Linked DNA regions of Homo sapiens: region 1 is linked to region 2. Evidence: fine-mapped expression QTL. Tissue or cell type: whole blood. Region 2 holds a variant in brackets; the other region holds the start of a gene. All regions are shown on one strand. Distances are between the middles of the regions. Region 1 holds the start of ACKR3 (atypical chemokine receptor 3). Region 2 has its middle 29 kb from the start of DRC11.

Region 1 (4,213 bases), 33 kb after region 2:
CCAGGGTGGGAGCCTGGCCAGAGTTCCCGACCCACCCCGCCCCATTCCCCGCTGGCGCTTGGTCCGCCCCTCCCCGTCTGGAAGCCTCCAGCAGCCCCGCCCGGCGGAACTAGGGGACGGGTGGGGGACGTCGAAGGGCGAGGGCGGTGACCCCGGGGCCAGAATTCTCGCAGGCGCCTGGGCCGGGTGCCCGGCCGTGCGTGAGTGCGGAACAAGTCTGGGCGCGGGGAAGGGCGTGGGTGCGGGCCGTGGGTGGGTGCGGGGCAGGGCGCGGGGCTGTGGGAGGGCGCGAGGCCGTGTGTGGGTGCGGGGCTGGGTGCAGGCCGTGGGTGGGCGCGGGGCCGGGGCTGGCGGGGCAGGGCGCAGGCTGCTGCAAGGCGGCCTCGTGGATTCTGGCCCCGGACGCACGAAGCGGGTTCTACTTTTTAAAAAAACTGCGTTGCCTTTTCCTTCCTCTACGTTAGCATCCTGTCCGGGGTCCCCGGCCCATGTGGCCTTTCTTCCAGCGACAGTACACTTAGCTCAGAACGGATTGACACCCACTCTGTGTTTCCACCGGGCGCGCAGGCTCTGCAATGCGGAGCGCGTTCTCTGAAGGACAGGCCCCGGAGTCACGGCTACAGCCACAGAAAGCGGAAACCGAGCTGCAGTCCAGAGGGGATCCCCGTACATTTCCAGCGGGCTCAGACACAGGGTCCCCCACAAGAAAGAAACAGGACAGAAAAAGTCAGGACACGTATGCTGTGGAGAGTCGAGGTCTCGCCTAGATCTTGGGTGTGGGTAGACGCAGCCGCTGGCAGTTTTCCTTTCCAGCGTCTCTGGGGAGCCTGGAGATGTCCTTGGTGCCGATGTGACACGAAGAGTGATTGCGCCGCCCTGCAGAGGCGGTGGCGGGACGCTGCGCTCGGGCTGGGAAAGGCCGGCCCCAGGGCGACCCCTCCGGAGGCCCCCGGAGAGCAGGTGTGCACCTCGCCTCCCGCTGGGCAGCCAGTTCAGGAGAAAAATGTGAAGCTTTTAGCTAAACAAAATATTTCTTTCGTTAAGGGCTTTCTCCACACGGAGACTTTCTAGCCACGTGAGACTTTGACCTCCCAGTCCCCCAGATTCAGCGCTGGGACCGAGCGTCTGCTGTTATTTTTAGTAGAAGTATAAAAAGAATCTCGAAAAGTTTTAGCTCTGGAGAAGGCGTGAATACAGCTGGTGCCTTCATACACTCCACTTGAGCCGCTCTTTAAGAACTCCAGGAGATCAGAAAGCAATACGAAAGCCAGAGCATTGCACATGGGATGGGCTGGCGGGTGGCCTTTGGGTCCCTATCTTATGGACGATTTTTGTAAATGGGGCATTGGAGATGAGTATCACCTGGATCACATTTTTAGGTTGAATTCCTCCGTGGGGGGAACTTTAGCAATACGCATCCAAATAAGAATGTAGATTGCAATAATTGTAGTAAAGTGTTTGCCAGACTCATCTCAGAAAAAGACATTATCAAAAGGCATTTATTATCTTCCTAATGCGTGTCTGGCACTGGGCAGACACTGTAGAATACTATCTTGATTAGAGTCTCAAGGATTTTGTACTTAAAGTCCTTTACAAATAAAAGTATTCAAGTATAATCTATTATAAAGACTCTTTTCTCCACTTTGGGGATATACGGTGTGGCATCGATTCATTGGTCATACCAAAACTGTTACTTCTGTTTTGGAGGAATTAACAAGGAAAACCCAGGCTTAGTAAATCAACATCGAAGTTCAGAAGTTCAGAGTAATTTGTCTTGGGAACAAAGTCCTCCCTAGAGCGAAGAGGCATTCACAGGAGCTCTTGGTGTTAATGGGATTATTCAAGATATACCTGAGACCAGATAAATATTTGATGATTTTGCCAAGCACTAGGGTTTCTTTGCAGTTTGTCTTTGGCTGACGTTTTCCCCCCGTGGGGTTTGGACTTTGTGGCTTCACCAGATTTTGCAAATGAAAGAAGGCTGGGGTTTCCCAAGAGTACACTTGTGCAGGAAACAACAGACTAGTGAGGTTTACAAGAGGGGGGTGTGTGTGTGTGTGTGTCTGCCTGTGGGATGGGGGTGGCACGGGGGAGAGAGAGATGTGGGTTACAAAGCTGCCATCTAGAGGCTAGAGGCTCCTTTCTGCAGTGTATATAATGCAAGTCTGCAGCCAGCAGAGCTCACAGTTGTTGCAAAGTGCTCAGCACTAAGGGAGCCAGCGCACAGCACAGCCAGGAAGGCGAGCGAGCCCAGCCAGCCCAGCCAGCCCAGCCAGCCCGGAGGTAAGGAAACGGTGCTCGGGCAGCAGCTCTGCTCGGAAAGAAGGCACGGCTTCTGCTCTTAAGCCAAGTGGTCTTTTCAAAGGCCTTCTTTAAAATCGCTCAGATGGGTGCTTTTGAGTCTGCGGGTCTGGTTTCTGAAAACCCAGGCTGCACGCAGCTGCATTGCAAAGTGCTTTTGCTAATTCGGAGGGCTTCACCTTTCTCTTCAGAAAGCAAAGGGCAGTTTTCTTAAGTCACTTGCAGAAGGAAATTTCCATGTGTATTTAGGAATCTGGTGTTTATTTGCTGTGTGGCTATTTAAGCTCCAGTAAGCAGGGGAACTTTGCAAGAACACAGACTATCCATTCTGCCTGACCAATTTGGCATGGGGATTAGCTTGGCACCCACTGTTTACCTGTTTTGCTTCTAGTATATCAGTTTGGAAACAGATAAAATTGGCAGTAAATACGTAATTCCAGAATGATGAACACTTTATTAAGAGGCATCCTTAAATGGAGCAGAAAACTGCTGAGAATCTTTGTGAGTCCAAGATGTATTTGAATTCAGTACTTTGGGGGATTTACCAGAGTCTGTAAGTCCGGAAGCTATAAACGTGAATGTTAAACACAGCCCGGTCTTCTCTTCTCTTGATGGCACGCTTGCTAATCTAATTTGAGTATTGTTCTCTTAGAAGGTGTTAAGTCCAACTTCAATTGGGGTTGGGGGAAGCACACACACAAATCTACTATTTTGCAATTTAAATATACTCTTCAGGTAAAATGTGGATTTTGTTCAATTTTGTTGGCATGTGCAAAGATTCAAGGAGTGACTGAGAGAACTTTGGAGTGAGGTCAGGGATGGGTGGTTAGCCAAGACTTGTAACTTCCAGGGAGAATGAGAAGTTGTAAAAGTCAGACTGGCTGTCTCTCTTTCTCTCTTCCTCTTTCTTTCTTTCTTTCTTTCCTTTTGCTCACAACAGGATTACTTAGTGTTTCAAAAGTGGGAGAGAGCCTCCTTAAATGGTTTACAGCCCTTTGAATGTATTTGGTGCAGTGACATCCCCTGAAACTTCAGTCTGCAAAGTCTCAACATGGTAACTTTGTTCTTTTCTTTTTTAAAGGCAGATGCTGCTTTTAGTGTCCCTTTATTTATTCCAGGAAAAATGTGGACATCAGCTAGGCACGCCTAGCAAAGAAAGTGGAGGCTGCTGGTTTCTGTGCTTTAACTTTCCATAGATTTTAAATGGATAAACTGCTTGCCCTTCTTTCATCAGAATATGAGCTTTCCCCAGATGGAAAGTCTTTTCTAAAGCAAAGTTGCACATGGGAGCTCTAGCTTGGAAACAATTTGCTCTTTTTTCCCCAGTCTCTGCCATAAACACTTGAATGTGCACACAACTGCAGAGCTTAATGCCACAACCTCCAGGAGATTGGGGGGAGGGGAAAGCTGCCCAGGATGGGGGTGGGAAAGCGAAGGAAGATGGAGAAATGGCTGCAGTTTGCTGCCCATCAGCTTTTCTCTTTTAAGGGGCAGACATTGCAGACGTAGTTTTAAAAAAGTTCCATAAAGCATCGCCAAGGCAGCATGCCTGTGCGACACACGCAGGGCTTTGGGGGTGTGTTTTCCCCGTATTAACAGCAAGTCGTTGAAGCGTTGAGAAGGTATTATGATTTCTAATCAGGCCCAGAACAGGCCAAGTATAGGCTTTCTGAATGAAAAAAAAAAAAAAAAAAAAAAAACCCAAAACAAAAAACCCTGCTTAATCAGGAACAGTGGCTTTTTGTGTGATCATTTTAGGGCGAGAGCTCCTGTTTTCAAGTCGACGTGAGGGAAATTGGTTGAAGTCACTCAAACCTGAGGCTGAAGGGCAGTCACTTTATAAACCTTAAGAGTAACCGAGGGGAAAGAAAAAGACCTCAAAGATTGCAAAACTTTAGATTTTTTTTTTGTG
Region 2 (4,511 bases):
ATAGGATTCTTCTATGTACTACTCAGATATAGTATGGCGCTATGGCTAGAATTTAGAGTTTTCCCAGCTCAGAAAGTGGGCAATGACCTGGACAGCCTCTTGGGATGCAGCTGGGATCCTAACTAAAAAGAAGCCAGGCTGGGCTTTCACAGGGGACAGTTGGGGTTGAGAAGCTCCATCCCCATGGCCTCCTTCCGCGGGACCCACTAAGGCTTGTTGGGACACGGCAAGCAATTTCCCATCATTATTATTCAGGGGAATTTCATCCATTCGAGTGGAGGTTTTGTCCATTTCTGGTTATTCTGAATTCCATAGGATTCCAGGCCCTTCCGGCTCTGAGGAGGAAACTTTCTAGCAAATGTGGATGCTTGTTTCCAGTCCTGTAGTTCCATATTCACATATTTTCTCACTCACGGAAGGGGTCAGGAAGAGAGCCGAAACCTCAGCAGGAAACTGGGTTGGGGGTCTAGGATGGAGCAGATTTGGAGCAATGCAGTGTTTTTGGAGCCAGGCCAGGGAATGCTGTGGTTATTACTCATTGTATTTCTAATGTTTCACAGGCAGAGCTTGGCGGTGTGCTTGATGCAAACATGGCAGATATGAACCTGGTGTTGTACCCGTGGGTCAGGATGAGGCAGGCATGGGTGTGTGTGAGGCCCTGGGTGTAGAATCAACCGAAAGTGGAGGCTTGCTAAGAAGACTCTATCTCCAATAAATCAGCTACCTGTGGGTCTGACTCCAGTCAAGATTGGCACCAGACTACCCTGGCTGAAGTGTCAGGGCCTCCCATCAAGGTCACGCATGGAAGGAGGAATCCGAGGGAAGCTGGGGAAGGTTGCTGGCTTCTCGCCTTGGGTGGAAAGGCGGAAGCCCTGGGGTGGGGGTTTAGGAGCAGTGCTTCTGTCCCCGCAGAGTTGGCTTGGCCATGACGGAAGAAAGCCCGGATCTCAAGCTGGGGCCTTCCAGAGGAAGGGGAGTGCTGATGTCAGGCAATCAGTCATGGAACTTTGATGTTGGGATCCAGTCCCTTGGGAGGGGAGTCCTTTTTTTTAAACTTTTAAGTTCAGGGGTACATGTGCAGGTTTGTTACATAGGTAAACTTGTGTCAGGGGGGTTTGTGGTACAGATCATTTAATCACCTAGGTATTAAGCCTAGTACGCATTTGTTATTTTTCCTGGTCCTCTCTCTCCTCCCATTCTCTACCTCATGATAGGCCCCAGTGGAGTAGGGGACCTTCTGAGTCCTGAGTCACAGCAGCTTTTATAAAGACAGGTTTTTCTTGGTGTCCGGTAGGCTCCCCTAGCTGGGCCAGCAGAGGGAGGTGGGTGCAGAGGATGGTGGGGAGGGCAGTGGGAGGAAAGGGAGACAGACAAGAGCAAGGGCTCCTGCTGGAGACTGGGTTCCTCCCAGGTATTAGGCCTAGCATGATGGGGTTTGTTCGGGGAGCTCATATCAGGGAACAGGAGCAGGGCTGAGAGAGTGAAGTGGGGAGAAGGGCAAGGTCTTCCACAGTGCTTCCTCAGGCTGGCCGCCACTGTGGGCTGCCGGATCCCATCCACTGGGCACTGAGGAGCTGGGGGGGACTTGCCTCTCAGAGTGGTCTGCCTGAGGACAGAAGGAGGAGCCGTCATCCAGTACATGCCTTCCCTTGGTCCAGGGCTGCCACACAGAGTCATTCCCAGGCTGTGTGGGCACCATGCGTGTGTCATAGAAAAGGTGCCCACAGGTACCTCCTGCAGGAAGCTTGTTGCTGCCACAGTGGCTGGAGTAAAAGGTGGGATGAGAAGCCGTGACGTTGAGTTCAAGCAGAGAGCTCTGTGATATGACGGGAACAAGAAAGGCTTCTGCACTGTTCATGAACTTGGTTGTAGCTTGTGGGTAACCCATGTCTTTCTATCTGGGGGAGGGAACATTGATCACCTTCAATTCCTGGGTTTCTGCTAGATGACCTGATTCCGGGGGAAGGTACCAGCTTTGGGAGTCAAGAAAAGCAACTCACCTAACGTATCTATCTGAGTCTTAGTCTTCTCACCTGTAAAATGGGAATAATAATTTATTTCCTATCTCCTGGGTATTGTGAGTTAATAGGGAATTACAATAATAAATTTCCAAAGGAAATGCCTTGCAGTGTGTAAATCCCTCTGCAGGTGTGAAGTGAAACTAATAGTGAAACACAGACGCATGTGAACTGTCGGCAGTTATGACAGCTGGCCCCTTGAGGGTTCTAGGTGCCTAGAGACTGTCTGGCACTTTTATATGCATAATATCATCTCATCCTCCTTGCAGCTCCTATGGCAGTCACTGTTATTATTCCCATTTACAGATGAGGACACAGAAACTCAGAGAGAGCAAGGGCCTTGCCCTGGGCCCTGCAGGAAGTGGTATTGGGAGGCTCCACGCTGCCTGTCTGCATTGCAGAAGCTCAGCCCCTTTCCTGCCCCAAATCTCTCACCACTGCTTGGTTAAACACGGTGTTACCTGGCTGTGTAGCACTGTGGCAAGCGGTCTACTAATCCTGATTGGATTCTAGGAATACCAGCAATGGGATGGCTGCCACCTGCTGACAGGGAGAATGGAGGAGGCCAAGGTCAAGCCCAGGGGCAGCCTGCCTTGGTCCTAAGTGTGAGCGGCTGGTGGAGATGAGCCAGGAGGAGGCAGAAGCTGGTAAGGAGG[C/T]TGGTTTTGCCTAGTACAAGGATTGTTACCAGGGCTCCATGAATAGGCTTGGGGCAGTGTCTCAGCCTCTCGAATGGCCTGTAAATGTATGGGCCCATGGGTGCATATGCTTTTTTCTAGGAAGCAGGTTCATCATTTTTATTAGTGTCATAATAATCCATGACCCTGAAGTTTGAACAGCAGTTCTCCATTGGGCCACCCTGGCATAAATGCAAGTGGTACAGGGCCCCTTGGATATCTCTGTACACATTGAGACCTGGACAACTTGTCCTTCTGAATGGCTTAAATCCCAAGAATTTTGCCTCTTTACGTGGCTGCTTTAATTTTATGTTTTTACCTTTTTGCTACTATTACTTATGAGCCAGAATTAGGAATTTTCCAAGAACTGGAGGGAGGGAAAATGTGTCCCAGCTTCATCACCCACGTGCTCTCTTCCACCGCCTTTACTTTTGTCTGCATTTTCTCCAAAAGGGTTAATGTTCTTATCAAATTCAGTTTTCTTTCTTTCACTAATGCGTATTCATGCTCTTTCAAGCAAGCAAGCAAATGTGCTTCTATTAGGCAATCAGTTCTGCAGATTACATTTTTTTAGTTGCTAGGCTAGAAAAATAAAAATAACCTAATAAGAAAGTGTTTATGTTGGAAGTAGGTATTCCAAAAAGAATAGTTCTTTTAAAAATAATTCCCCAAACAACTCTTAACAGGTCTTGATTCAAAGAGGTTTTGTTTTCTTTTTTTTTTCTAGCGTGAAAAGCAATATACATAAGCCAGATCCTTTCCTTGGGCAGCGTGGTTAATACTAGCACACATCACACCTGGTATTTGACTTCTCAGAAACTTGCTAAAAACCTTGTGTGGCCATAATCCCTGACTTGATTAACTGTTATTGAGTGTGTTCTGCAAAGTAACAGGAGCTTTAGATGTCTCCTGAAAAGAAAAGCAGAACAGACACAGATTGCCGAAATGAAACAGCAACACAGTGATGATATATTTTCACAACTTGAAATACTAAAAACGTGGTCAAAAGGATCCATCCGAGTCAGAGATTGGGCTCTGTCTGTGGCCACAGCGGAAGCCAGGTGCTGTGGGCTCACCACCCTGACCTTGGATGGATGGCAAGACTTGCCACCCCCACCCTCCTACTGAGGAGTCCCTTGGAGAAATCAATGGCAAAACTGGCCCCAAGCATGGAAAGGGGCTGCAGTTCTAAGGTGGACCGGGGCAGAGCTTGCTTTCTGTCTTCTGAGAAGTGGCTGGGGTAAGACCAAGTCTAGTGGACCTCTTGATGAGTAGATATCTGCCCTGCCCTTAAAAAGCCAACAGCAAACTACAGTGTAGGCACGGTTGCCAGATAAAATACAGACTGCCTAATTAAAATTGAATCTCAGATGAACAAGGAATAGTTTTTCAGTATAAGTATGTTCCATGCAGGTAGATGTCATGCATATTTCTGATATTGCTTGGGATATTCTTATCCTAAGAAGTGATGTGTGGTTTCCCTGAGATTGAAACTTAGCTGAGCATCCTGTATTTTTATTTGCTAAGCCTGGATACTCTAGCTCAGGGCAAAGTAGGCGCGGACAGGCTGTGTTGGCTCACCTTTCTGGTCAGGGCTATAGATTGTGCTCTCAGGTTCTAGGACTTCATGTAGCTGGAATGATGCAGTATGCCTTCTTTTGTGTCTTGCTTCTTTTACTTGGTATATTATTTTGAGATTCATCCCTGTTGCTGCCTCTATTGTAGTTTGTTCCTTTTTATTATTGAGTAGTATTCTACTGTAAGAAAATACTACAGTTTATTATCACGTCTGGATGGGCCTTTGGGTTGTTTCCAGTTC

Evidence for each region. PIP is the estimated chance that this variant, and not a neighbour inherited with it, causes the effect.
Region 1: it holds the start of ACKR3, and the variant in region 2 is fine-mapped to the expression of ACKR3 in whole blood (INTERVAL, PIP 0.98).

Annotation. Positions count from the first base shown.
Region 1 is chr2:236,567,642-236,571,854 of GRCh38, forward strand. It overlaps ACKR3 (atypical chemokine receptor 3), which reads left to right and starts at 2,184. Exons shown (of 2, transcript NM_020311.3): 1 at 2,184-2,283. RefSeq lists enhancers at 1-544, 545-1,420 and a silencer at 194-243.
Region 2 is chr2:236,534,683-236,539,193 of GRCh38, forward strand. It overlaps a transcript of ACKR3 not described here. Among named protein-coding and RNA genes, the nearest start is that of DRC11, 29 kb to the left of the region's middle. RefSeq lists enhancers at 2,209-2,428, 3,532-3,581. The variant C/T (reference allele first, on the strand shown) is at 2,675.